Linked DNA regions of Homo sapiens. The protein of the gene in region 1 interacts with the protein of each later gene in a pairwise test. Each region holds a gene or a part of one and is shown in the gene's direction. Other genes may lie near its edges. The genes, in order: ADAT3, SORBS3, CDA and FBLIM1.

Region 1 (5,586 bases):
TGTGGGGCGCCCCGGCGGCTGAGGCGTGGACCAGGCAGTGCATGTCGAGGAGTAGCACCCACAGCTGCGCGGCTGCGAAATGATCCAGAGACACATCCCTGTCTGCGGGAGGAGCCGTCCATACCAGCGGGGATGTGTAGTCCAGGCTGGCAGTTCAGGATCACCCGGCTGGAGTCATTTTAAGATCATCTGCGGCTTAGCCCCAGCACCATCTGAGGCAGTACTGTCTGCTAGAAATAACTGTGAGCACACAGGTAGTAAGGTTTTTAGGATTTTATTATTATTTATTTATTTGAAAAAAGGAACAGGGTCTCTCTATCTTGCCCACGTTGGTCTCAAACTCCTGTGCTTAAGTGATCCTCTCGCCTTGGTCTCCTGAGTAGCTGGGACTACATGTGCACACCACCGTGCCCAACTAATTTATACTTTTAAGCAATGTGGGCTGGGCACGGTGGCTCACACCTGTAATCCCAGCACTTTGGGAGGCTGAGGCAGGTGGATCACCTGAGGTCAGGAGTTCCAAGACCAGCCTGGCCAACATGGTGGAACCCCGTCTCTACTGAAAATACAAAAATTAGCCGGGCGTGGTGGCATGTGCCTGTATTCCCAGCTACTAGGGGGGCTGAGGCAGGAGAATCGCTTGAACCTGGGAAGTGGAGGTTGCAGTGAGCTGAGATCATGCCACTGCACTCCAGCCTGGGCAACAGAGTGAGACTCTGTCTGAAAAAAAAAAAAATGTGGGCTGGGCATGGTGGCTTACGCCTGTAATCCAACCTCAGGCCTGCGGTGCGAGTCTGTGGGGGCAGATGCAGGTGGGGGAAGGCTGGCCAGCTGAGACTGTGGTTTGGGGGTGTTCAGGTGGGGTGGATGCCAGAGATGTGGGAGCCAGAGGCGCTGTCCCCCAGGGCCCTGTGAGCAGTCCCTGCAGGCTGGCTGTCCCCACGCCTGCCTCTCTGCTGTGCTGTCTGCCCGCCTAGGGCAGGCTCCCTTCTAATGGGCGGATCCCGAGAGCTGGGGGCCCCACCAGCCCTTCCTCTCCAGTGGAGTGGCCCTACTGCCTCATGTCCACCTGTGCCAGCAGCAGGGATGGTAATGGCTCTACTATCTCCTGTCCTCACCTGTGCCAGCAGCAGGGATGGTAACGGCTTTACTGCCTCCCGTCCTCACCTGTGCCAGTGGCTGGGATGTCTTCACCTGTGCCAGCAGCAGGGATGTCCTCACCTGTGCCAGCGGCAGGGATGGTAACAGTGCTGGTGATGTCAGGCCGGGAGGTTCTCACCCGAGAGCCGCCTTGGCACACTGCCCGGCAGTCAGGGATGTTAGCAGGAGCCCCGGGAGTGATCCCAGCTCTTCCCGCAGCCCCACTCCAGCCAGGGCCTCCTCTGTGACTGAGTAAGCAGGGACACCCCAGTGGCTGCCTGCTCCACCCGACAGCCAGGGCCCACCACAGCTGCAGGAATGTGGTCAAGGGATGGGAAGTCGGGCCCACCAGGGGAGGGGCTGCGCTCCGGGGCTTACGTTTCGTGGCTTGTCTTCTGAGGTCTCTCTTTTCCTAGCCCTTGGCCGACTAGGGGGCGAGTGTTTACAGAAACCACTGGAGGTGGGTGTTCCGTGTCAGTGCCAGGCTGTGTGCTGTTCTGGGAGGGGGCCCCGTGTCCCCCACACTTGGCATGCTTGCTTTCTGTCACTGCATAGCAGACTCCGTGCATCTGTGGGCTTAATACAACACCCGCCAGCTCCCGGTTCTGTGGGTCGGGGCCTGAATGTGACATGGCTGGCTCCTCTCTGCGGGGTCTCACCGGGCTGGAACCCAGGTGTCAGCCAGGGCTGTGTTGTCATCTGGAGGCTCAACGGGGGTGGCATCTGCTTGCAACTCACGCAGGCGTTGGCGGAATTCAGCAGCTTGCGGCCGGGGGACCAAGGGTCCTGCTCAGTTCCTGGCCACATGGCCCTTCTGTCTGGAAGCCAGGCGCCGCCTGTCCCCGCTTCTGCTTCCAGGCTCTGGCTTCTGGAGATGCAGAGATCACATCAGTGGTTGCCTGGGTTGCTGTGTGTGTTGTAGGGTGGTGAGACAAGTTTTCTCTTAGGGGTGATGGAATGTTCTGGAATTTTATAGTGGTGATGGTTGCACAACTCCAAGTGTCCTAAGAGCCACTGAATAGGACACTTGATAGTTTTTGGTTTTTGAGGTGTCTTTTTTTTTTTTTTTTTTTTGAGACAGAGTCTCGCTCTGTCACCAGGCTGGAGTGCAGTGGCACGATCTCGGCTCACTGCAACCTCTGCCTCCCAGGTTCAAGCAATTCTCTTGCCTCAGCTTCCTGAGTAGCTGGGATTACAGGTGCGTGGCACCATGCCCAGCTAATTTTTGTATTTTTAGTAGAGATGGGGTTTCACCATGTTGGTCAGGCTGGTCTCGATCTCGTGGCCTCATGATCTGCCCGCCTCAGCCTCCCAAAGTGCTGGGATTACAGGCTTAAGCCACCACGCCTGGCTTTTTTGTTGTTTTTTGACAGTCTCGCGCTGTTACCAGGCTGGAGTGCAGTGGCGCGATCTCGGCTCAATGTAACCTGCGCCTCCCAGGTTCAACCTTCTGGGTTCTCCTGCAAGCCTCAGCCTCCCTAGTAGCTGGGACTACAGGTGCGTGCCACCAGGCCTGGCCAATTCTTTGTATTTTTAGTAGAGACGGGGTTTCACCGTGTTAGCCAGGATGGTCTTGATCTCCTGACCTTGTGATCCGCCTGCCTCGGCCTCCCAAAGTGCTAGGATTACAGGCGTGAGCCACCGTGCCCGGGTTTTCATTTTTTTTTTGAGATGGCATCTTGCTCTGTCAGCCAGGCTGGGGTACAGTGGCACGATTGTAGCTCACTGCAGCCTTGAATTTCCGGCCTCAAGTGCTCCTCCTGTTTCAGCTTCTCGAGTAGCTGAAACCACCGGTGTGTGCCACCACGCCCAGCTAATTTTTTGATATTTAGTAGAAATGGGGTGTTGTTATGTTGCCTAGGCTGGTCTTAAACTCCTGGGCTCAAGTGATCCCCCCACCTCGGCCTCCCATAGTGCTGGGATTACAGGCGTGAGCCGCTGGTACCTAGCCATGAATTGTGCTTTTGAAAATGACCTGTCTTGGCTGGGCGCAGTGACTCACACCTGTAATCCCACCACCAGGTTGAAGCGGGTGGATCACGTGAGGTTAGGAGTTCGAGACCAGCCTGAACGACGTGGTGAAATCCCATCTCTACTAAAAATACACAAAAATTAGTCGGGCGTGGTGGCGCATGCCTGTAATCCCAGTTACTCTGGAGGCTGAGGCATGAGAATAGCTTGAACCCGGGAGGCGGAGGTTGCAGTGAGCTGAGATCATGCCACTGTACTCCAGCCTGGGCGACAGCGAGACTCCGTCTCAGAAGTAAAAAAATAAAATAAAAAAAAAAGAAAATGATCTGTCTTCTGGTAGGTGAATTATATCTTCGTTTTTAAAAACCAATGGCTGTTTAAACTCTGTGCACACCAGGGGTTAGCAGGACATGAGGGAGTGTAGCTCTGATGCGGTGACCTGGGCCGGAGCCCTCGGACTAGCCTCAGCTTTGGTGGCAGCACGCCCTGCCTTGTGGAGCCACGGCCTCCCGGGACGGACTCCCCGGCTCTCCCCCAGCCGCCCGCAGCCGCCGGATGATCCTCTGCTCCCGTCTCTGTCTCCCACAGTCGGCCTCGCTGAGGATGGAGCCCGCCCCGGGCCTCGTGGAGCAGCCCAAGTGCTTGGAGGCCGGGAGCCCGGAGCCTGAGCCGGCGCCGTGGCAGGCCCTCCCTGTCCTGTCCGAGAAGCAGTCAGGGGACGTGGAGCTGGTGCTGGCCTACGCCGCGCCCGTCCTGGACAAGCGCCAGACCTCACGCCTCCTGAAGGAGGTGTCGGCCCTGCACCCGCTCCCCGCCCAGCCTCACCTCAAGCGGGTGCGGCCCAGCCGCGATGCCGGCAGCCCCCACGCCCTGGAGATGCTGCTTTGCCTGGCTGGGCCGGCCTCGGGCCCGCGCTCGCTGGCTGAGCTCCTGCCACGGCCGGCTGTGGACCCCCGCGGCCTGGGGCAACCCTTCCTGGTGCCCGTGCCCGCCCGGCCGCCTCTGACCAGGGGCCAGTTCGAGGAGGCCCGGGCCCACTGGCCCACGTCCTTCCACGAGGACAAGCAGGTGACCAGCGCCCTGGCTGGGCGGCTCTTCTCCACGCAGGAGCGCGCCGCCATGCAGAGCCACATGGAGCGGGCGGTGTGGGCGGCCCGGCGGGCAGCAGCGCGGGGCTTGCGGGCCGTGGGGGCCGTGGTAGTGGACCCGGCCTCGGACCGCGTGCTGGCCACCGGCCACGACTGCAGCTGCGCGGACAACCCCCTCCTGCACGCCGTCATGGTGTGCGTGGACCTCGTGGCGCGCGGCCAGGGCCGCGGCACCTACGACTTCAGACCCTTCCCCGCCTGCTCCTTCGCCCCGGCCGCTGCCCCCCAGGCCGTCCGCGCAGGCGCCGTGCGTAAACTGGACGCAGACGAGGACGGCCTCCCCTACCTGTGCACTGGCTACGACCTGTACGTGACCCGCGAGCCCTGCGCCATGTGCGCCATGGCCCTGGTGCACGCACGCATCCTGCGCGTCTTCTACGGTGCGCCCTCGCCCGACGGCGCCCTGGGCACCCGCTTCCGCATCCACGCACGGCCCGACCTCAACCACCGCTTCCAGGTGTTCCGCGGGGTGCTGGAGGAGCAGTGCCGCTGGCTGGACCCCGACACGTAGGCGCCGCCCTCCTGCCTCCGGACCCTTCCCGCTCCCGGCCGTGGGGCGCCCCTCCTGGACTTCCGGGCCTCGATTTCTTCCGCACAAGCCTGACCGTGGATTTCAGGGACACATACCGCCTCCAGCGGGGAGCACGGGTGCTGCCTTCCGTGCGGATCGAGCTTTCCTGGACTCGGTCATTGGGGCCACCCCGTGCCAGCGGTGCCCTTCTGCGGCCGCCCTTGCTGCGTTTGTGTCCCCTCTGTCTCGCGGGCCGGGAAACTGCTCTGATGGGAAAATAAACAGCCCAAAACCAAGTGGGTGTCTGTTAGGAGGTGTGTGCCTTTGTGGCCAGGGTCCCGAGTGGGGTGGGGTCTGTACAGGGCCTGGTGGCTCAGCCGGAGGGGACCTGCTGAGCCACGTGTGGTCAGAGACCTGGGCTGATTCTGGGGTAGAGCAAGGCCCCCAGCTGCTGCCTCCTTTCCCGCTTCTGGAGTCCTGATGGTTCCAGGCGTGCCTGGCCCAAGTGTGTGGACACTAGGCGTAGTCCACAGGGCACCGACCCTAAGGAAGGGCCCTGGGATTTCGTGTCCTTCACAAGTGGCAACAGGGGACCCCAAAGGGCTGATGCTAGTCGGTCACAGCACAGTGAGGACTAGAGCCGTTTTTGCAGAACTTGGAGCAGGACCTGTGGGTCCACCCGGCAAGTGTCCATTGCCTGACCATGTGGGTGCAGCTTTGCCTCCAGACACGCCTGCTGTGAGCCCCCAGCCCATAGGGGAGGGGATCCGGCAGGTGGGGGCTCTGCGTGGGGAGCTCATGCAGTGGACAGAACAC
Region 2 (7,037 bases), on another chromosome or scaffold:
GGAAAATTCTTCTTCCAGGGAGCGTTCCCAGACTCCTCCCCATCCTCCAGCACCCTTTGGCTGTGCCCACCCGTGGCTGCCCCCAGGGCTTGTGTCTGGTGTTTATATCTTTTCTCTGCCTAGGGGCGGGCCCACCTTCTCTTTGCTGTCTCACAGGAACCCCCAGCCTGTGCTATGTTGATGCCCAGGCCAAATCTTTCTCATGACCTTTCTTCATGCAGGTGCTGCCCGCAGATGAGATCCCTAAGCCCATCAAGCCCCCGACCTACCAGGTGCTGGAGTATGGAGAGGCTGTGGCCCAGTACACCTTCAAGGGGGACCTGGAGGTGGAGCTGTCCTTCCGCAAGGTGGGCCAGGCCGGAGACGGAGGGGTGGGTGGGGGCAGGTGAAGATGTAGGTAAATATGTGCACTAAAAACAGTTTTTTTTTTTTGAGACAGAGTCTCACTCTATCGCCAGGCTGTAGCGCAGTGGTGCCATCTCGGCTCACTGCAACCTCCGCCTCCCGGGTTCAAGCAATTCTCCTGCCTCAGCTTCCCGAGTAGCTGGGACTACAGGCACGCGCCACAACACCCAGCTAATTTTTGTATTTTTAGTAGAGACAGGGTTTCACGATGTTGGCCAGGATGGTCTCAGTCTCTTGACCTCATAATCCACCCGCCTCAGCCTCCTAAAGTGTTGGGATTACAGGCGTGAGCCACCGCGCCTGGCCTAAAAACACTTCTTTAAAAAAGAGTCCGATGTACCTAGCTTCACCCAGGATTTCAAAGTTTTCCCCAGTCTCTTTCATTATGCTTCCTTTAGTGTAGTGGCTTTTTTTTGCTTTTTTTTGAGACAGCATCTCACTATGTTGCCCGGGCTGACCTTGAACTCCTGGGCTCAAGCGATCCCCTGTCCCTGCCCCAGCCTCCCAAGTAATTTTGGTCCATTTTTAAAAGATCATCATAAACTTCTAGAGTTACATATATATTTTTTCAACTGCAGGTTGCAGGGGATCATACTCAGCATTTTTAAAGGTATAGACAGAAATGTTAGCATGCGTTGCGAGCAGAAAGCACTTTATCATACCGTAGGCAGTTCTGTGTATGCACATATATATGTATTCTGGGCTGTTATTAAAACATTTTTAACTGTAGATTGTGGTGAAACAAGTTTGAAAAATGCTGTTCTAGAAAGCAGGGAAGTGGTCTGCCTTTGGTTGATTTTGGGAGCAGTGATCATGCTCCCAAAATAAGCGAAAGACGGCCCATAGTGAATGCCTCCCAGAAGAGCTGGCCCCAGGGACAGAGGGGGAAGAAGGTGGCTGGATGGAGACAGATGGGGGCAGGAGAGGACAGGGGAAGGCAAGGGCTGGAGGCCACCCTCCCAGGGGGTGGTTCTACCTAATGTCAGCCAGCCTGTGGCCTTCAGGACTCCCTGCCTGTCCTGGGGAGTGTGTTTTTGACACGCTCATGACAAGGTCCCCCAGCGTGAGGCAGGAACAGGACCCAGGCAGGGCAGTAGTGGTAGCACCTGTCCAGTGTGTCTAAGGAGTGGACTGTTGATCTCGTTCACACCTCATAGTGACAGTATGGTTATTTTCACTTAACATAGGAGAAAACAAGGCTCAGAGAGACAGAGCAGGCTGCCTGAGGCCACACAGCTTGGCCTGGTGGAGCTGGGTTTGGATCTGTATTATTAGCCACGGGCTCACCTGTGATCGGAGCTCTGGGGAGGGACCTTGCTATGAACGCCGAAGGGGGATGCACACCCGTTGAGCTTCCAAGAGGCAGGACCCAGTCTCAGCCTCAGCCTTGCCTGGGCAGCCTGGGCTTGGCTCCTGGCTCCTGCTCTTACCGTGTGACTCGGGTAAACTGCTGGCCCCCTGCGATTCCGACCCCTCGTGTGTCCAAGGTGTTAGGGTTGAATGAGACAGCCCAGATAAGGCACCCGTGGGTCCATGGCACCAGGAAGGCCCCACAGACACTGACTTTTCCCCCCTCAGGGAGAGCACATCTGCCTGATCCGCAAGGTGAACGAGAACTGGTACGAGGGACGCATCACGGGCACGGGGCGCCAAGGCATATTCCCTGCCAGCTACGTGCAGGTGTCTCGTGAACCCCGGCTCCGGCTCTGTGACGACGGCCCCCAGCTCCCCACGTCTCCCCGCCTGACCGCTGCCGCCCGCTCAGCCCGTCACCCCAGCTCCCCCTCAGCCCTGCGCAGCCCAGCTGACCCCATCGACTTGGGGGGACAGACCTCCCCCCGTCGCACTGGCTTCTCCTTCCCCACCCAGGAGCCTAGACCCCAGACCCAGGTGAGGTAGCCTGCCTCCACCAGAGAGTCGACCTCCTCCTCACCCCTCATCCCCCACCCCCGTGACTTGTCCACACTTGGGACTCCTTCCCAGACAGCCCTGGGACATAGGAGTGGGGTGACAGGGCAGAAGCTAGTATGGCAGCCCCACCCTGGCCTGGGGGACCTCAACCTACCGAGCTCTAGCCGAGGGAGCTCTAGATGGAATCCCAAAGCCGGCCCAGGCTCCTGACCCTGGGTGTTCTTGGTTCATCCATGCTGGCGTCCAGAAACCCAGGCACTGACCTTACTTGGGCCTCAGTTTTCTGGCCCCTGTGAAATGAAATAGTCACAGCAGGTGTCCCTGTGCCCTGGGGGTTTGGAGGCTAAGATGAAGCCGTTTGTAAGGCGTGCTGGCAGGTGGACTGGGAACGCCCATTTTGGGCCTCCTCCCTCAGGCTTACATGTACCCATCGTCTTCCTCCCTCTGACATCCCTTTCTTCCTGTCAACTCCCAGAATCTTGGCACCCCTGGTCCAGCTCTGTCCCACTCTCGAGGTCCCAGCCATCCCCTGGACCTGGGGACCTCCTCTCCTAACACCTCTCAGATACACTGGACCCCGTGAGTACCATCTGAGGGCTCTTGATCAGACGTGGGGGGGGTCACTGGCAGGCAATGCCCCATATTCCACCCTCCCCCAAGTCCCCACCTGTGGATTTGGGAAACTTCTACCAGGTAGCCCTTGTCCTCGAAGAGCTTATGGTGATTTGGGGCAGGGAGGAGGCGCTGGTCTGTGATGTTCCCAATCCCTCCTGGCAGCTATGTGGCCTTGTGGCCTTGGTCTCCTCATTGGGTTTCTAGCCCTGAGGTCGGTGCATGTATAATTGAAGTGTGGAACTGGTGGAATGGACAGGAAGGCACCAGGTGCTCAGAGGAGGCGAGGGTTCAGTGCTTAGGGCCCAGAGGGCAGGAGGCAGGCCTGGGAAAGACTACGGTGAGCACAGGCTGAGTTGCTCTGAGGAGCTGGATCAGGGGCTAGTGAGAGCATGAAGGGACCCTGGGGCATTCACAGGAAGCGGCAACACTTGGGTTAGAGCCTCTGGGCCCATTCTCTGGTTGCCATGATACGCTTCTCGCAGGTACCGGGCGATGTACCAGTACAGGCCCCAGAACGAAGACGAGCTGGAGCTGCGCGAGGGGGACAGGGTGGATGTCATGCAGCAGTGTGACGATGGCTGGTTTGTGGGTATGTGGGCAGGCCGGGAGGGGGCATCTCAGGGCCCCAGGGGATGTGGGTGGGGTGCTGTTGCCTGCCAGTGCTGCTTCAGCAAAGATTCATGGCCGACCACCCCCCGACTCAGCTTCCGGCCGGGCTACTGGGGGGGCCTGGCACCCGATGCTTCCCCAAAGCCAGCCCTTCTGTTGGCTGCCTTCCTTCATGAAGAGGCCAAGGCCCAGGAGGAAACTGGCACCAGTCCAGGGTCACTGATGGAGTCAGTGGGGACCCAGGCCAGGGTTCCCAACGTCCAGAGCTCTGCCTCTTCCTCCTGCACACCCCTGCCTCGAGCAGCCCTGGGGGAGAGCTCCTGGTGGAAAGGACCAGGGCTCACACTTGACCTAGCTGGCTCCTCCAGCCTGGGAGGAAGAGGGAATGGAGAAAGGTCCCAGCCCCTCAGGGCTGGCCCAAGGGCAGCTCTGACCAAGGACAAATGCAGGAAGCCTCAGGTTGGCCTCAGCCTGAATCAAGGTGACCAACCCACCAGGCTTCACATGGCCTCTTTCCCCAGAGTGGGCGGGCCCTGTGCAGGTCTCATCTTCAAAGGATGGGCCGTCCCCAGAGAGAAGAGAGTGGCCAGAAGCCCCCTGCCCTGCCCCAAGCAGGCTTTGAAGCCTGAGGAGTTGGGGGGCTGCTTGGGCAGCCCCTTGACCTGGCAGCCCACCCTTCCTGATCTGATCCCAGTACAGCTGCCAGCCAGCTGTACTGACCCACCCAGGACCATTAAGCACTAGCCTGTGAATGGCCCCTACCTTCTAGTGGGGGAGGGAGGGAGGCGGTGCTTGGAGATGCATTCAAATTTACTGGATACACTTTTGCTTTGGAATTTTTTTACAACTACTAATAAAGTTTTGCAAACCTATGCAGACAAGAAGAAAAAGTACCACTTTTGTATTAGGAGCCACAAGCGCTTTGAGAGGAATGGGCGAGACCTGTGCCCTTTCCGGTATGGCAGCCACCGGCGGCATTCAGCTGTTGAAATGTAGCTCAAATGAAATAAATTAAAAATCCAGTTCCTCAGTTGCACAGGCACATCTCAAGTGCCCAACAGCCACAGGTGGCGAGTGGTGCCCATTTTAGTTAGTGCAGGTCAGGGAAGGCTTCCTGGAGGAAATGAGGGAGCTGGGCCTGGAAGGGCAGGGGAAGGATTTGGGGAGGCCAAGAGGAAAGGGAGGTACTCGGGGCAGAGGACGAGGGTGGGGGTGGGACGAGCACGGGCTGCCCCCAAGGAAGTCAGGGTGCCAGCCTGGAAGGGGAGGCCCAGGATCATCCATTCACCCAAGGTCAGGAGTGACGTTCATTTCAGTTTATATTCCTATTTTTCTATATATAGGAATATAATAATATTTATTACATTTCTGTATTTCTATATTTCTCCATTCCCTCTTCCTCCCAGGCTGGAGGAACCAGCTGGGGGGTGTGGGGATACACAGGTGTGAGCCCTGGTCCTTTCCACCAGGCGCTCTCCCCAAGGGCTGCTCCAGAGGCAGGGGTGTGCAGGGAAAAGGGGCAGGGCTCTGAAGGTCGGCAACCCCGGCCTGGGTCCCCAGTGACTCCATCAGTGACCCTGGGGTGGTGCCAGTTTCCTCCAGGGCGTCCTTCTCTTCATGGCACGAAGGAAAGCAGCCAACAGAAGTGCTGGCTTTGGGGAAGCATCGGGTGCCAGGCCCCCCAGATGCTTTGCCCGCTGGGGTTCCCCCCCCTCCTCCTCTTCAAGACACGAGTTTCTGTGGGGCTGAGAGGCCTGGATCGGAGTCCCAAGCTTACTCCTAAGCGTCGGGGTGCTCTCGGGCAATGCATTCAGCCTTCCCATAGGCCTTCCCACCCATCTCTAAGTGAGGGTGCCCTATTAGACCAGGGACGTTTCTCCCGATTTCAGTTCTGTGATTCCTCCTCCTGTGTCCCCACTTTGCGGAGGAGGGGGGGAGTGACTCTGCTGTGTACAGTGTGATGCACATTTGTTGATTGCTCAGATTCTTTGGTGGTTGAGTGTGGGAAGTGTAGCTTTGCCCATCTAAGCTTCTGCCGCTAGGGGGCAGGAAGGAGGAGAGCAAATCCAATTCCCTCTCTGGGCTCCCCTACAGAACTCCCCTACAGTTCTGGGCACTGCCGGCAGGGGGCAGGCCCTCACCCCTGCATCCCTGTTAAAGAAGGGAGTGGGGAAAGCTCTTCCTGCCTTTCCTCTTTCAGGTGTCTCCCGGAGGACCCAGAAATTCGGAACGTTCCCTGGAAATTACGTTGCCCCGGTGTGAGTGGTCTCCATGGCAACTTGGAGCCAGCCAGGATGGGGTGGGGAGCGGTGGCACTCGTGGGAGGGAGAGGACCCCCGCCCACATCCTCCTTCCCCAGGACCTGAGCTCCCAGCATCTGCAGACGACCCCCGCAGCCTTTCCCTCGGACCCCCCTCGAAGCCCCCTGGACTGATTCCCACCCACGACTCACAGGCATTCCTCCCACAGCCCTTTCATTTCCTCCCCACCCCACTCCCCAAATACAGAGGTCTGCTTTGAAGCGGAGACCATTTCCAGGCCTTATTGAGACCAGACCCCAAGTCCCCCACCCCCATCCTGCTCCAGCGTTTCCTCTAACAGGGACCAGCTCTCCGCTTTGCCCCCACGGGGTTCCTCTAACCAGAACCAGCTTCCTAGCCTCGTAGAGACCAAAGGCCGCCCCCGCCTGCTGGGGTTCCTCCCAGCACCCCAGCTTGCTGGCTGCCCTCTTTGCCTTCTGGCCTCCAGCTGGGTGTGGGGGGGCGGAGCAAGGCGGGGGACAGACGCAGCACCTTCTTAGCGATCTAGGCCTGGCAAGAGCTCTGGCCCCAAGGCCTCCTCTTCCCAGGGGCTGCCAAGTCCTGGCCCTGGCCCTGGCATATCACCCCGCACTGTGGGGCCAGGCACCACTAGCCTGGCTCAAATATTCCCCAGGGAGACTGCTGTGTGCTGCCCGCCTGCCTGCTGGCTCTCCCCCAGCCCCACATCCCCTCTGGAAGAGAATGTAAAATAAACCTGGACACAAGGGACCTTGTCTCTGCGGCCTTTTCCTTGGGGTAGGGGATGCCTCCTCCTGTCTAGGAGATGGGAATTCCTTCTGTGGAGGGCTGTGCTGGGAGACAGGTGGGACAGGTGTGTGTGTAAGAGGAGGAGGATGGAAAAACACCATTATTACCTCCAAAGATCTCTGCCCTTGGGTGTCAGGCAGGTTGCGGCAGCCCCCACAATTGGGCAGCTGTGTGGCAAGAAGTGCTGGGAGAATGAACAGTGCCAGGCCCTGGTAGCAGGGAGACACCAGAGATGGGGGACTGAATGTGGCCTTGTTTGCAGACTGTTTTGATTCTGGAGCTGCCACCGTGGGGTTGCTGGGCTAGATGACATTTCTAACTATTCTGCTGTTTTCCTTCTGTGTGCTCTGTTTCCACACCGAAGCCCTTGTGTGTGTGTGTGTGTGTGTGTGTGTGTGTTTATTCTCCTCTTTGGGCTCAGGCTTTTGA
Region 3 (7,000 bases), on another chromosome or scaffold:
ACATTTGAGCAGAGCCCTGAGTAGGGTGAATAGTGCGCAAAAGGGAAAGAGAGTTCCAGGCAATGGGAACAGCTTGTGCAAAGGCCCTGTGGCAGGAGCATACTGGTGCCCTGAGGGGAGCAGCTGGAAGGACAACAGGTCTAGAGAACAAAAGGAGATGCGAGCCAAGAGGTAGCACCAGATCACATATGACCTTGGCACCAGATCACATATGACCTTGTAGTCATAAGAAGGATTTCAGGCCAGGCGTGGTGGCTCACACCTGTAATCCCAGCACTTTGGGAGGCTGAGGCGGGTGGATCACAAGGTCAGGAGTTCAAGACCAGCCTGACCAATATGGTGAAACCCCATCTCTACCAAAAATACAAAAATTAGCCGGGCGTGGTGGCACGCACCTGTAGTCCTACCTACTTGGGAGGCTGAGGCAGGAGAATCGCCTGAACCCAGGAGGCAGAGGTTGCAGTGAGCCGAAATTACGCCACTGCACTCCAGCCTGGGCGACAGAGCAAGACTCCGTCTCCAAAATAAAATAAAATAAAATAAAATAAAATAAAACAAAATAAAATAAAATAAAAATAAAGGATTTCAAAGTGCCTGAAGGACAGGGACAGGACCACTGTCATACCTTGTTGAGAAGGTGCAGAGGGTCACATAGCCCTACTGCCACCAAAGCCTTGATTTTTATGCAATTGATAACAGCAGCAGCTAACAGCTGCCGACCATTTCCTCTGTGCCAGGCTTTGTGTTAAGTGCTTTACACGAGTGATCTCAATTTATTCTCACAACAGGACTATGAGGGAGATTCTATCATTAGCGATTTACAAATGAAGCCAGTGAGCCTCAAAGAGGTTCAGTCCCTTTCCCCAATTCTCAGAGCCAGTTGGGCAAAGAGTCCCAGGGCAGAATGAAACCTAATGGAACCTCTTTCTACAGGGTGCTGTTTGAGTAGTGGGGCATGTGAGTGTGCCCCCTGCCACAACCATCTTTCTTTCTCATTAACTGGCCTATTACATGTTTTACACAAAGTAAAGGAAGATTTCTGTCTCTGAGGCCTTTCTGAACTTCCAGAGCAGACACATGTGACCATCCTGAGAGACTGGGTCTTCTGCAAGTGTGGAAATGTGCTTTAACGGCATGTCAGCAAAACCCAAGATCTGCATGCATCACTTTTGATGGGAAAAGTGTCAGACTTTAGTCAGGGATCGGGCAGGGAAGCTGGAAGGGCGGGGCTGGGAGAGTCACTAGGCTGGGAGTGAGGCTGGCAGGGACTGTAATCTGGGAGAGAGGCAGAAACCAAGTGTAGGGATGTCAGTGAAGGTGGGAGTGGTGAGCAGATATGGCAGGTGAGAGTGGTGTTTAAAGAAAGTCATTTTCAGGGGCTGGGCATCTTAGCTCACACCTGTAATCCCAAGATTTTGGGAGGCCGAGCTGGGCGGATCACTTGAGGTCAGGAGTTCAAGACCAGCCTGAACAACATGGTGAAACCCCATCTTCACTAAAAATTAAAAAATTAGCCAGGCATGGTGATGCACACCTGTAATCCCAGCTATTAGGGAGGCTGAGATGAGAATCACTTGAACCCAGGAGGTGGAGATTGCAGTGAGCTGAGATTGTGCCACTACACTCCAACCTGCATGACAGAGTGAGACTCTGTCTCAAAAAAAAAAAAAAAAGAAAAGAGAAGAAAAAGAAAGTCATTTCAGGTGAGGATCAGGAACCTGGCTGGGGAGACAAGGTGGGGAGCAAGAGGCATTATTCATTTATACATTCAACTTTCATTGACTCAGCAGAGAGACTGAGCAATAAGGGGCCAGTTATCTCAGCTATAATAACTAACATTTAAATAAACAAAAGCTCTCAGGGTTGCAACTTCCTGATTGTACCCTGCCCCATATTCCAACTGTATTAACTGATCTCTGTATGGTTTCAAATGATAAAAATACACATGAACTATTTTAGACAAAAGGAGGATGTATGGATTCCTATAACTAAACCGTGGGAAGACCTGGAGTGTAGCCAGACCTCAGGGGCAACTGGCACTGGCCAGACTCCTTTCTTTCCATCTCTCTTCTCTCATCCATTCTTCTGAGTGTCCATTTCAGCCTCTCTCATTGGTCTCTTCCATAATGAATGGAAACATGGCGGCCCACACTCAGTGTCTCAAGAGAGAAACTGAAGTTCCCACACAGAGATGAACTCTGATTGGCCAGTTTGAGTCAGGTGTTCATCTTTATGCCCATAGCAAGGTCATAGGAGACAAGATGGCAGCTCCCATTTGAACTACATGCTGGGGAATAAAGTAAGAGTCATTCCTCAGGGGAAAAAATGTAAGAGGTGTTAAGTTGTCAAAACAGTAGATGCTCACTATAGTCTACCCTTTGGTGCTCAGTATACAAGCCTGTTTTCTTCCCCAAAGTAGAATTCCAAACCAGCCCCCATCTAACACCATACAGCCATCCCATGCACCACTGTGACCACATTCACCCTCACCCTGACAAGGGACCTGCAGCTGTGGCACCCAGTAGTGTCTAATGACATCCGTCAACTCTGGACATGAATGCCTGCGATCCTGAGAACGAGTTAAATGACTAATCACTCCTAACATGCCAATGTAAATAATGAAGGGACCAGAAAATATGTGAGGAAAAATATACAAGAAGATAATGACCAAATAATTCCCAAATGTGATCAACACGGAACAAAATACTGCATAATCACAATGAAGACTTGGACTTATAAAAGGAGGTGTAGGCTGGGCACCGTGGCTCACACCTATAATCCCAGCACCTTGAGAGGCCAAGGTAGGTGGATCACTTGAGCCCAAGAGTTTGAGACTGGCCTGGGCAACCCCATCTCTACAAAAAAATACAAAAAATTAGCCAGGTGTGGTGATGTATACCTGTGGTACCAACTACTTGGTAGGTTAGGATGAGAAGATCAGTGGAGCCCAAGACTTTGAGGTTACAGTGAGCTATGATCATGCCACTGCACACCAGCCTGGGCAACAGAGTAAGATCCTGTCAAAAAGAAAGGAGAGGGGAGAGGAGGAGAAAGGAGGGGAGGGGAGGGGAGGGGAGGGGAGGGAAGGCTAAGTTGATGAAATCAATAAGTATACAGTGACTCAAACAAGATGTGGTGGCTTATTTCCCTCATCTAACAGACCAGGGGCGGGCTGGAGTCCACAGCATAGGAGATGTGTTTCTCTGTCCTGCAAAGTTGTCCTGGAGACCAGATTCCTTCTGTCTAGATGTCCCACCATCCCTAGAGTTGTGTCCTCATCTGCATGTTCAAACTGACACACATCATCACACCCACATCATGGTTTTTTTTTTTTCGTTGTGTTTTGAAATGGAGTCTCACTCTGTCGCCCAGGCTGGAGCGCAGTGGCATGATCTCGGCTCACTGCAACCTCTGCCTCCCAGGTTCAAGCAATTCTTCTGCCTCAGACTACTGAGTAGCTGGGACTACAGGTGGCTGCCACCATGCCAGGCTAATTTTTGTATTTTTAGTAGACAGGGTTTCACCATATTGGCCAGGCTGATCTCAAACTCCTGACCTTGTGATCCGCCCGCTTTGGCCTCCCAAAGTGCTGGGATTATAGGCTTGAGCCACCATGCCCAGCCTCATCATGTGTTTTTATAGGCCAGGCTTGTGGCTTCTTTGGCGATCCAATTCTATCAAAAGTTGGAAACATCCTGATCTATTTGCTTCCAATTATTTCCATACAGAAATGCCACACCCAGAGATCCCTTCTGGACATGGTTCTGAAGCCTGCCAACTCTGGCATTTTCCTAACTGGCTCCCATGCCTGGCCCATTCCTGCTGCCCCATCTTAATGCTGGCTATTGTGGTGCCTGAAACAACAGGCTGTGTGGGCAGATGACACATCACATCTTTGCCACAGGGCTGATTCCCATTGCCAGGGAGAGAAATTTCAGTGGTGGGTACCACGGCCTGCCTTCCTGGTTATTGCAGGTGGAGCTTTACCAAATAACAGACTAGGAGGAGTCACCATCTGGCCATCTTGCCTCATCTGTGTTTTCTCCTTTGCGTTGCTCAACCACTAAGCCAATGTCACATACTTTAGATTTTTTTTGTTCAAGTTGCATCTCACCTTCAGCACAAATGTCTGTATTAGACATAGGTTATGCTACTATAACAAACAGATTCCAAGATGCAGTGATATAAACATGGTGGAATTCTCTTTTTCTCTCACACAACAATTCAGAGTAGGCCCCAGGCAAACGGGCAACTCTGCCCCATGAGTTGACCAGGTTTCCAAATTCCTTCTCTCTCCTTGCTGCTCCTCCATTCCCTTGGCCACGCAGTCAAAAGTGTCCCACCCCATCACCTCCACCTTCCAGTCTGTGGAAGGAGAAAAGAATGGAAGTAACAGGCAAGCAACCTCCTTACCAAAAGTATGATCCAGAAATTTCCCACATCACCTTGGGCCACATCCCATTGGCCAGAACTGCATCATGTGGCCACACTGTGCTGCAAGGGAGTCTGGGAATTACAGTCCCTAGCTGAGCGGCCATGCTGGAATGGGAGGCACTTGTATTACTTAAAGGAAGAAATAGGAAATGAATACTGGGGAACAACTCCTATCTCCGCCTCAGGGAAAAAGGCAATTTACAAACAGTGATACAGATGGAATACCACATCTTGCTGGTCAGGGGAAAACCCAGCTCCCATAGTGATTTGTTCGTAGACTCACTTCCCTGAATATGGGGACTTTCTTAGCCAATCTGGTTATGCCAACATCTTGCCTCCTAGGAGCAGCCTTGGCTTATTGTCCCCCAGCAACAACCCTGAGAGAGCCAACAGGAAGGACTCCCTTACTGAGAGCTGGGCCATCTTAGGAGCCCACATCCCACTGGAGGCCCGAGGATTGTTTTAAGTCTTGTGAAATCACAGGCAACTCGCACAAAGCTCGAGGTGTTTTTTTTGTTTGTTTGTTAATTGATTTCGTTGTTAGTTGGTTTTGACAGTGTGTTTGTTTTGCAACACAACTGACACAGAACCCTGGCTGAACTCTGACAGCCAGTACCTAACCCCCAAAATTTTGTCCAGGCTCAAACTTGGAATCAGGATCTGTCTTAGTCCATTCAGGCTGCTATAACAGAATACCATAGACTGGGTAGCTTGTAAATAACAGAAATGTATTGCTCACAGTTCTGGAGACTGGAAAGTCCAGGGTTCAAGGCACTGGCAGATTCAGTGAGGGCCTGCTTAGTCATAGACGGTGACTCCTTGCTATGTCCTCATGCGGCAGATGGGGCAAGGCAGTTCTCTGGTTTTATAAGTGCATGACTCCCATTCCTAGGCTTGGTCCCCTTCATTCCATTCTCATTATCTAATCATTCCTCCAAAGGCCCCACTTCCTAATACCATCACTTTGGGGGCTAGGATTTCAACATATGAATTTGATGGGACACATTCAGACCATGGGGCTCTTAGATCTCTTAGATGCAGGTGTGGGGGCTCTACTTATTTTTGTAAGCCTCGGGATCTACCCTGGCCTTGACCTCTGCAGGGGTGATGGAGCTGCCTAATCTGCCTGTTGTGCTGCCCTGCTCCCAGGCTGTGCTTCATCATGGAGGCATTGGGTAAATTAAGACAGTGCCAGGTTCTTGGGAAGGGCCACTACCATGGGCCAAAGAATCTACCAGTGCCCCAGGTCGAATTGCCCTAATTGCCCTGTCCTTCTCCCCACCTTGTTTGGAGTAACCAGTTCCTTCCTGCTTTGGAATGGGGCAAACTTCTTACTCAACACACGCAACAGGAAGTGTCTCTGCCAGACATACCACTGGACTCTGCTCTCTTCTCAGGGTGCAACATAGAAAATGCCTGCTACCCGCTGGGCATCTGTGCTGAACGGACCGCTATCCAGAAGGCCGTCTCAGAAGGGTACAAGGATTTCAGGGCAATTGCTATCGCCAGGTGAGTGGGAAAGCCAGGTTGCAACAATATTCATTCATCTCTTTAGCCAACATCTTCCTTACACATATTATTCATTCATTCATTCATCTGACATATGTTTATTGTGGACTTCCTATGTGCCAGGCACTGTACAGGGCCCTGGGATGAGTGCTGAGGATAAGGAGATAAATAAGAAATGGAGTTTGCCCTCAGTGAGCCTGCAAAGCAGGTAAATAAGCAAGGCAACTCTCATACAAGGGCCAGTATGCCCCTGTTCCAGCAACACAACGTGATACAGACTCCTGTCCTACAAGATATAACAGAAAGGCAGCATTGAAACATAAAGCGGGGGGAACCTGAGCCAGGCGCGGTGGCTCACGCCTGTAATCCCAGCACTTTGGGAGGCCAAGATGGGCAGATCACGAGGTCAGGAGATCGAAACCATCCTGGCTAACACAGTGAAACCCCGTCTCTACTAAAAATACAAAAAAATTAGCTGAGCGTGGTGGCGGATGCTTGTAGTCCCAGCTACTTGGGAGGCTGAGGCAGGAGAATGGTGTGAACCTGGGAGGCAGAGCTTGCAGTGAGCCGAGATGGCGCCACTGCACTCCAGCCTGGGCGACAGAGCAAGACTCCGTCTCAAAAAAAAAAAAAATTTTTTTTTGCTGATGGTGGCATGCCCATAGTCCCAGCTATTTGGGAGGCTGAGGCAGGAGGATCACTTGAGCCTGGGAGTTCGAGGCTGGAATGAGCCATGATTATGCCATTGCACTCCAGCCTGGGGGACAGAGTGAGACCCTGTCTCAAAAACAACACAAAACAAAAAAGCATTGAGAACAGTTTGGAAAGGTCTTCACCGGCAAGTAATTATCACAGTGTTGTACCATTGGATTCTCTTGGCTTACTTATAGGTTCTGTATTGTTTGAATAACAAAAAAGGAATACTGAAAGCTGGGTTTAGTGCAAGGCCAGTGGGGACTGCACAGAAGCAAGCCCACGTGCCTTTTATAAGATCCTACACTTTGCCTCAGTCTGGCCCCAAGGAGACCCAGCTTAATTTGTTTCTGAGTAAGTAAAG
Region 4 (7,037 bases), on another chromosome or scaffold:
AGGGAATTTAGGAGCACGTGTTATTGTTTTTATTATCATCCATCAGTCGCTGTGAACCCAAAGTGGCCAGTGCACTTTGAGATAAGGAGGGAAGCCTGAAGAGCGAGATAGAAAAGGGGACATTTTTAGCCCTGGGCACAGGCATTGGGTGCCTGCTGAGGACTGATGTGCTCACTGGACTCCCAGCTTTCCCACCCATGGCCCCACCTCAGCCTTGGCCACAGGGACTACTGTCAGCAGGAACTACCTGAGAGATGGGAAATAATGTCCTTTTCCTGACATCAGGGTATCAGGGTGCCACCATGCTCTCTGATTTATGCTTTTCTTTTTTTTTTTTTCGAGACAGAGTTTCACTCTGTCACCTCGGCTGGAGTGCAGTGGCACAATCTCAGCTCACTGCAACCTCGCCTCCCAGGATTCAAGCGATTCTCCTGCCTCAGCCTCCTAAGTAGCTGGGGACTACAGGTGCATGCCACCATTTCTGGCTAATTTGTTTTTTTTTTTTTTTTTTTTTGAGACAGACTCTTGCTCTGTTGCCCAGGCTGGAGTGTGGTGGTGCAATCTCGGCTTACTGCAACCTCCGCCTCCCGGGTTCAAGCAATTCTCTGTCTCAGCCTCCCGAGTAGCTGAGATAACAGGCGTCTGCCACCATGCCCAGCTAATTTTTGTATTTTTAGTAGAGACAGGGTTTCACCATCTTGGCCAGGCTGGTCTTGAACTCCTTACCTCGTGATCCAACCACCTTGCCCTCCAAAAATGCTAAGATTACAGGCATAAGCCTCCACGCCAGGCCAAATTTTTGTATTTTTAGTAGAGACAGTGTTTCACCATGTTGGCCAGGATGGTCTTGAACTCCTGACCTCAAGTGATCGCCTACCTCCCAAAGTGCTGTGATTACAGGCGTGAGCCATCGGGTGGCCAGATCTGGGTTTTGATGCCTGCGCTCTGATATCCTCTAGGCACACAAAGAATGCAGACACCGGTCAGACGCATTGATAGTGAGCTTGTGAGCCAGCCTGTCCTGCCCTGGGGCTATCATCGCTTTCGTCCACCCTTGGCAGCAGGAAACTGCCCCTGGAGAGGGCCAGGAATCGGGGGGTGCCTTGTGGAAGAGGTGATGTTTGAGCTGGGCCTCTAAGAGAAAGCTGAAATTCACCCTGTGGGGGCAGGACAGGAAAACCATAGAAGAAACACTGCAAGGCAAGAGAGAGGACATAGGAAGGGCGAGTGGTCCAGGGGCTCAAAGAGGCTGAGGCTGCCGCAGTTGGACTTCATCCTGAGGTGGTGGAGAGCCATACTTTTTTTCTTTTTTTTTTTTTAGACAGAGTTTCGCTCTTGTTGCCCAGGCTAGAGTGCAATGGTGCCATCTCACCTCACTGCAACCTCCACTCCCACGGGTTCAAGTGATTCTCCTGCCTCAGCCTCCCAAGTAGCTGGGATTACAGGCGCCCGCCAGCACACCCAGCTAATTTTTGTATTTTTAGTAGAGATGGGGTTTTACCATGTTGGCCAGGCTGGTCTCGAACTCCAGACCTCAGGTGATCCACCTGCCTCTGCCTCCCAAAGTGCTGGGACAGAGTCTCACCGGGGTGCGATGGCTCACGCCTGTAATCCCAGCACTTTGGGAGGCTGAGGTGGGCGGATCACGAGGTCAGGAGATCAAGACCATCCTGGTTAACATGGTGAAACCCCATCACTACTAAAAATACAAAAACAAAATTAGCCGGGCGTGGTGGCGGGCACCTGTAGTCCCAGCTACTCGGGAGGCTGAGGCAGGAGAATGGCGTGAACCTGGGAAGTGGAGCTTGCAGTGAGCCAAGATCGTGCCACTGCACTCCGGCCTGGGCAACAGAGCAAGATTCCGTCTCAAAAAATAAAAATAAATAAAAAAAGACAGAGTCTCGCTCTGTTGCCCAGACTGGAGGGCAGTGGTGCAATCTTGGCTCACCACAACCTCGGCCTCCCAGGTTCAAGCGATTCTCCTGCCTCACCCTCCCAAGTAGCTGGGATTACAGGTGCCCACCACCACGCATGGCTAATTTTTGTATTTTTAGTAGAGATGGGGTTTCACCATGTTGGCAGGGTGGTCTCAAACTCCTGGCCTCAAGTGATCCACCTGCCTCGGCCTCCCAAAATGCTGGGATTACAGCTGTGAGCCACCATGCCCGGCCCATGGAAGGTTTTTGAGTAAAGGAGAAAGAGATTGATGCTCTAGAAAGATCAGGGTTAGGAGGTGAGACCAGAGGCCATGGAGCCTCCCCATCTCTCCCCTTGCCCCCTGCCCACTGCCCAGGCCTGAACCAGGACCCAGGTTTTGGAGATTGGGTGGAGTGAGAGAGTCTGGCACTAGAAAGCAAGCAAGGAGGGTGCTGGCTCATGTGCAGGGCTGAGAAAGGTCAGAGCAGAGCAAAGTGGCCAAGAGCATGGGCTCTGGGTTCCAGTGCCACCTCACCACCGTGTGACCCTGGACAGGTGACTTCTCTCTGAGTCTCGATTTCTTGATGTGTTAGGTGGGTGATGATAGTGCCTGCCCTGCAGCCACCTTGTGAGTGTTTATGAGTTAATGAGCATAACGTGTGAGTGTTTATGAGTTAATGAGTATAACATGCTCAGGGCAGAGCCGGTCTTGGTGAGGGCAGCTCTCACTGTGCCCTGCCCACTCTGCCGCCGGAGCCTAGCCCTGACGCCCTGGCAGATCCTGATCTGTTCTCTTTCCCTCCCAAAGCAGAGCTGGCCTGAACCTCCAGGACTTCAGCCCTTCTAGGAGAATCTGATCCCAGGTGAGGGAGGTCACTTGGGGTGTGGCCCAGCAGGCAGGCGGGACTCCAGACTGGGAACGGAAGTCAGCCCTGCTGGGGCTGGGAGCTGAAGCATCTGTTCCTTCCTCGCGGGTGTGAGACAAGGAAGAGTGATCATTGGTGAGGGCTGCCCTTTGCTCCCCTAGGTGTGCAGGTTCGGGGGAGGGGCAGTCAGGACTTTTGGGTCTCACCCCTGTGGCCAAGTTCCCTGGTGGGTCCTGTCTTCCCCAGCAGGACACCCCCACCCCTTCTCTGGCTGGGCTGGGTGCTGGACTGAGTTGTTGAGATGGTAGGGTGGCTGGCCTGTCTTTTTGGGAGGAGGGAGGCTCTCTCCTCTCGGGGGAGGGTGGCTGTGTGTCTGGGTGGCAATCCTGTGCTGTACCCCACTCTGTCCCTAGCCACACCAGGAGCTGAAGCCATGGCCTCAAAGCCTGAGAAGAGGGTGGCATCGTCTGTCTTTATCACCCTGGCACCCCCGCGCCGCGATGTGGCCGTGGCGGAGGAAGTGAGGCAGGCAGTTTGTGAGGCCCGGCGTGGCCGCCCCTGGGAGGCTCCTGCCCCCATGAAGACACCCGAGGCTGGCTTGGCGGGGAGGCCCAGCCCCTGGACAACCCCTGGCAGAGCTGCAGCCACAGTGCCGGCTGCACCTATGCAGCTCTTCAATGGAGGTAAGAGCTGAGGGGACTTTGGGGAAGACCACGTCAGAGGCAGAGGTGGGGAGGAAAGGGCAGGCTCCAGCGTCATTCATTCATTCATTATTCATCCTGACAAAATTCACACATCAACGGGAAACAAAAAGATGTGCCCCTTCTGGGTGGGCAAGGGAGCCCGGGAAATAGAGGCTAGATGTCAGAATTTCCGGGACATTTTCATGGGTTATTGGGATTATGGGAAGAGGATCTTGGGAGTGTGGGAACAAGATCAAACTTGCCTGGGAAGGGCTGTCCTGTCACTGGTCAGCATGGCTGGCTGGCCGTTTCGTCTGCCAATTTAATACCCTCAAGCAGAGCACGGGGATCTTGGGGTTCAGTCTCCCTGAAGTGAGATAAGTTTTAGGTGACCAGCTTGGTCATGCGCCTGGTCTGACTGCAGGACACAAAGGCTGGCCCCGGGCCCTGGGGATGCTGCCAGCTGCTTGAAGCCGTCTACACCGAAGGCTGCCATCTGCCATCTGCTTAGTACTTGTCCTCTCAGAGTCATCCTCGAGCGGGTCCAGGACCCCCTTTCTGCCCACCTGCCCTGTGGCCTCGGGTCCCCCTGCTTCTCTCTTGAATTCCTGCCCGCCCATCATAGCCTATGGGCCCTGCACCGGGAGGCAGGCACTGGGAGAGGCCACAGCACTCTTACTGCCTCTCCAAGACCTGGTTCCTGACTCCGTGAGCTCATCGGAGCCTCTTTCTCTCACTTCCGCTGAGTCAGCAGCAGCATCACCCGGGCCTGTACCAACACAGTCACTGGGTCCATTCCAGCACAGCCGCAGGCTCCCACCCCAAGTATCTCTGATTCAGCAGATCTGCCGTGGAGCCTGAGAATTTGCATTTTTTTTTTTCGAGACAGGGTCTTATTCTGTCACCCAAGCTGCAGTGCAGTGCAGTGCAGTGGTGTGATCACGGCTCACTGTAGCCTCAACCTCCCTGGCTCAAGCAATCCTCCCACCTCAGCCTCCCAAGGAGCTGGGACCACAAGCTCTCACCACCAGGCCCAGCTAATTTGTGTGTGTGTGTGTATGTGTGTGTGTGTGTATATTTTGAGACGAAGTCTCGCTCTGTCACCCAAGCAGGAGTGCAGTGGTGCGATCTCGGCTCACTGCAACCTCTGCTCCCCAGGTTCAAGCAGTTCTCCTGCCTCAGCCTCCCAAGTAGCTAGGATTACAGGCGCCCACCATCACACCCAGCTGATTTTTGTATTTTTAGTAGAGACAGGGTTTCACCAGGGTTGCCAGGCTGGTCTCAAATTCCTGACCTCAGGTGATCTGCCCGCCTCAGCCTCCCAAAGTGCTGGGATTACAGGCGTGAGCCACCGCGCCCAGCCTAATTTTTTTTTTTTTAGATGGAGTTTTGCTTTTGTTGCCCGGGCTGGAGTGCAGTGGCGCAATCTCAGCTCACTGCAACCTCCGCCTCCTGGGTTCAAGTGAATATCCTGCCTCAGCCTCCTAAGTAGCTGGGATTACAGGCATGCCCACCACGCCCAGCTAATTTTGTGTTTTTCGTAGAGATGGGGTTTCTCCATGTTGGTCAGGCTGGTCTCAAACTTCCAACCTCAGGTGATCTGCCTGCCTCAGTCCCCCAAAGTGCTGGGATTACAGGTGTGAGCCACTGCACCCGGCTTTTTTTTTTTTTTTTGAGACAGGTTCTGGCTCTGTCACCCAGGCTGGAGTGCAGTAATGTGATCTAAGCTCACTGCAGCCTCAACCTCTTGGGCTTAAGTGATCCTTCCACGTCAGCCTCCCAAGTAGCTAGGACTACAGGCTTGTGCTGCCATGCCTGGCTACATTTTTTTTAATTTTTAGTAGAGTTGAGGTCTCACTATGTTGCCCAGGCTGCTCTTGAACTTCTGGGTTCAAGCGAACTGCCTACCTCGGCCTCCCAAAGTGCTGAGATTATAGGCATGAGCCACCGTGCCTGGCCTGAGATTAAGTTTCTTGCCTAAGGACACACAGCAAATCAGTGGCAGAGTTAGACATGGAACCCAGGCCGGGGTGATCCCGACCGGGGCCCTCAGCTTCCCTCTGTATGGCCATGTAGGTAAGTAAAACCCTCCCAGGTCCACCTGGGAGGCTCTGACCAGCCCTCTCTCCTCCCCCATTGCAGGATGCCCACCCCCTCCTCCTGTCCTGGATGGTGAGGACGTGCTTCCTGACCTGGACCTCCTCCCACCCCCTCCACCGCCCCCTCCAGTGCTTCTGCCTTCTGAAGAGGAGGCTCCTGCTCCAATGGGGGCCTCACTCATTGCAGACTTAGAGCAGCTGCACCTGTCCCCGCCCCCGCCCCCACCACAGGTACTGCCTGCCCCCCGACCCCCAGCAATCCCTTGGTCCCCTTGGTTGGGGCACGGGGAGTCTGGGCCTTCTGGGCATTCAGGGGTTCTAAACCTGGACTTTGTCTGGTGCATTCTTCTGCTCGGGGGCAGTCCCTCTTTGAAGCTCTCAGAAGTCCCTATTTAGGCAGGTAAAAATTGGTTAAGTGTTTCAGGGTCCCTGGAGAGGGATGCCACTGCCTCGCTGCTGCACCTGCCGCAGACACCTCCTTCAGCTCTGAGGAAGACGTTTCCCTGAGTCCGACCTAAATCCCTTAGGCTGCATAGGAAACCTGGATTTTTGTTTGTTTGTTTGTTTTTGAGATGGAGTCTCGCTCTGTCACCCAGGCTGGAGTGCAATGGCATGATCTTGGCTCACTGTAGCCTCCACCTCCCAGGTTCAAGCGATTCTCCTGCCATAGTCTCCTGAGTATCTGGGATTACAGGCACCCACACCATGCCTGGCTAATTTATTGTGCTTTTATAGAGACAGGGTTTCACCATGTTGGTCAGGCTGGTCTCAGACTACTTACCTCACGTGATCCGCATGGCTCGGCCTCCCAAAGTGCTGGAATTACAGGTTTGAGCCACTGCACCTGGCCAGGAACCTGTTTTTTAACCCTGGGCCCTTAACAGAGGCTGTGTAGAAATGGGGGGCGTCACAGGCCAAGGGCTTAGTCCACTTCAGTCCAGCATCCATGGGGAAGCCTGGTTGCAGGAGAGTCCTTCTAAGTAGGACAAGGAGCAGTGGCTGATTGAGGGACCCCAGTCAGCTGCCACTGTGACCTTCCTGCTGAGAGACTTACGCAGGTCCCTTGCTTCCCTGGGCCTTGGTTTCCTTCTCGGTACAATGCGGCTAATTGTACCTGTTACCACCCAGATGAGGAACAGAGCTGGGAGGGCTGCATGGGGTCCCACTGGATGACTCCCCGTCTGCATCCCCACAGGCCCCAGCGGAGGGACCTTCAGTCCAGCCCGGTCCCCTCAGGCCCATGGAGGAAGAGCTGCCACCTCCCCCGGCAGAACCTGTTGAGAAAGGGGCATCCACAGGTAGGTGCACAGGGCTGAGAGGATACTGGGGTGATCTCATGGGGCCAGCATGGGCTTCCAGGTAGAAACCAAGAGAGTGAGGACCCCTCTTCCCATCCCCACCCCAGCTCATGTTAACAATGATGGGCTTTGTAGTTCGGCATCCATTTAATTTGTATTGCTTTAGCCTTTTTC

What was found.
Region 2: the proteins of ADAT3 (region 1) and SORBS3 interact in binary tests that used the Homo sapiens proteins (3 or more experiments, as listed by UniProt).
Region 3: the proteins of ADAT3 (region 1) and CDA interact in binary tests that used the Homo sapiens proteins (3 or more experiments, as listed by UniProt).
Region 4: the proteins of ADAT3 (region 1) and FBLIM1 interact in binary tests that used the Homo sapiens proteins (3 or more experiments, as listed by UniProt).

What each region holds. Positions count from the first base shown.
Region 1 is NC_000019.10:1,908,382-1,913,967, forward strand, and holds the end of ADAT3 (probable inactive tRNA-specific adenosine deaminase-like protein 3), read left to right. Parts: intron 1-3,508; 5' UTR 3,509-3,666; coding exon 3,667-4,770; 3' UTR 4,771-5,066; downstream 5,067-5,586.
Region 2 is NC_000008.11:22,568,927-22,575,963, forward strand, and holds the end of SORBS3 (vinexin), read left to right. Parts: intron 1-221; coding exon 222-347; intron 348-1,983; coding exon 1,984-2,295; intron 2,296-2,791; coding exon 2,792-2,895; intron 2,896-3,413; coding exon 3,414-3,520; intron 3,521-5,740; coding exon 5,741-5,802; 3' UTR 5,803-6,862; downstream 6,863-7,037. UniProt on the Homo sapiens protein: Vinexin alpha isoform promotes up-regulation of actin stress fiber formation. Vinexin beta isoform plays a role in cell spreading and enhances the activation of JNK/SAPK in response to EGF stimulation by using its third SH3 domain.
Region 3 is NC_000001.11:20,599,097-20,606,096, forward strand, and holds part of CDA (cytidine deaminase), read left to right. Parts: intron 1-5,831; coding exon 5,832-5,943; intron 5,944-7,000. UniProt on the Homo sapiens protein: This enzyme scavenges exogenous and endogenous cytidine and 2'-deoxycytidine for UMP synthesis.
Region 4 is NC_000001.11:15,761,768-15,768,804, forward strand, and holds part of FBLIM1 (filamin-binding LIM protein 1), read left to right. Parts: intron 1-2,725; exon of another isoform or gene 2,726-2,728; 5' UTR 2,729-2,918; intron 2,919-3,196; 5' UTR 3,197-3,216; coding exon 3,217-3,466; intron 3,467-5,608; coding exon 5,609-5,796; intron 5,797-6,760; coding exon 6,761-6,863; intron 6,864-7,037. UniProt on the Homo sapiens protein: Serves as an anchoring site for cell-ECM adhesion proteins and filamin-containing actin filaments. Is implicated in cell shape modulation (spreading) and motility.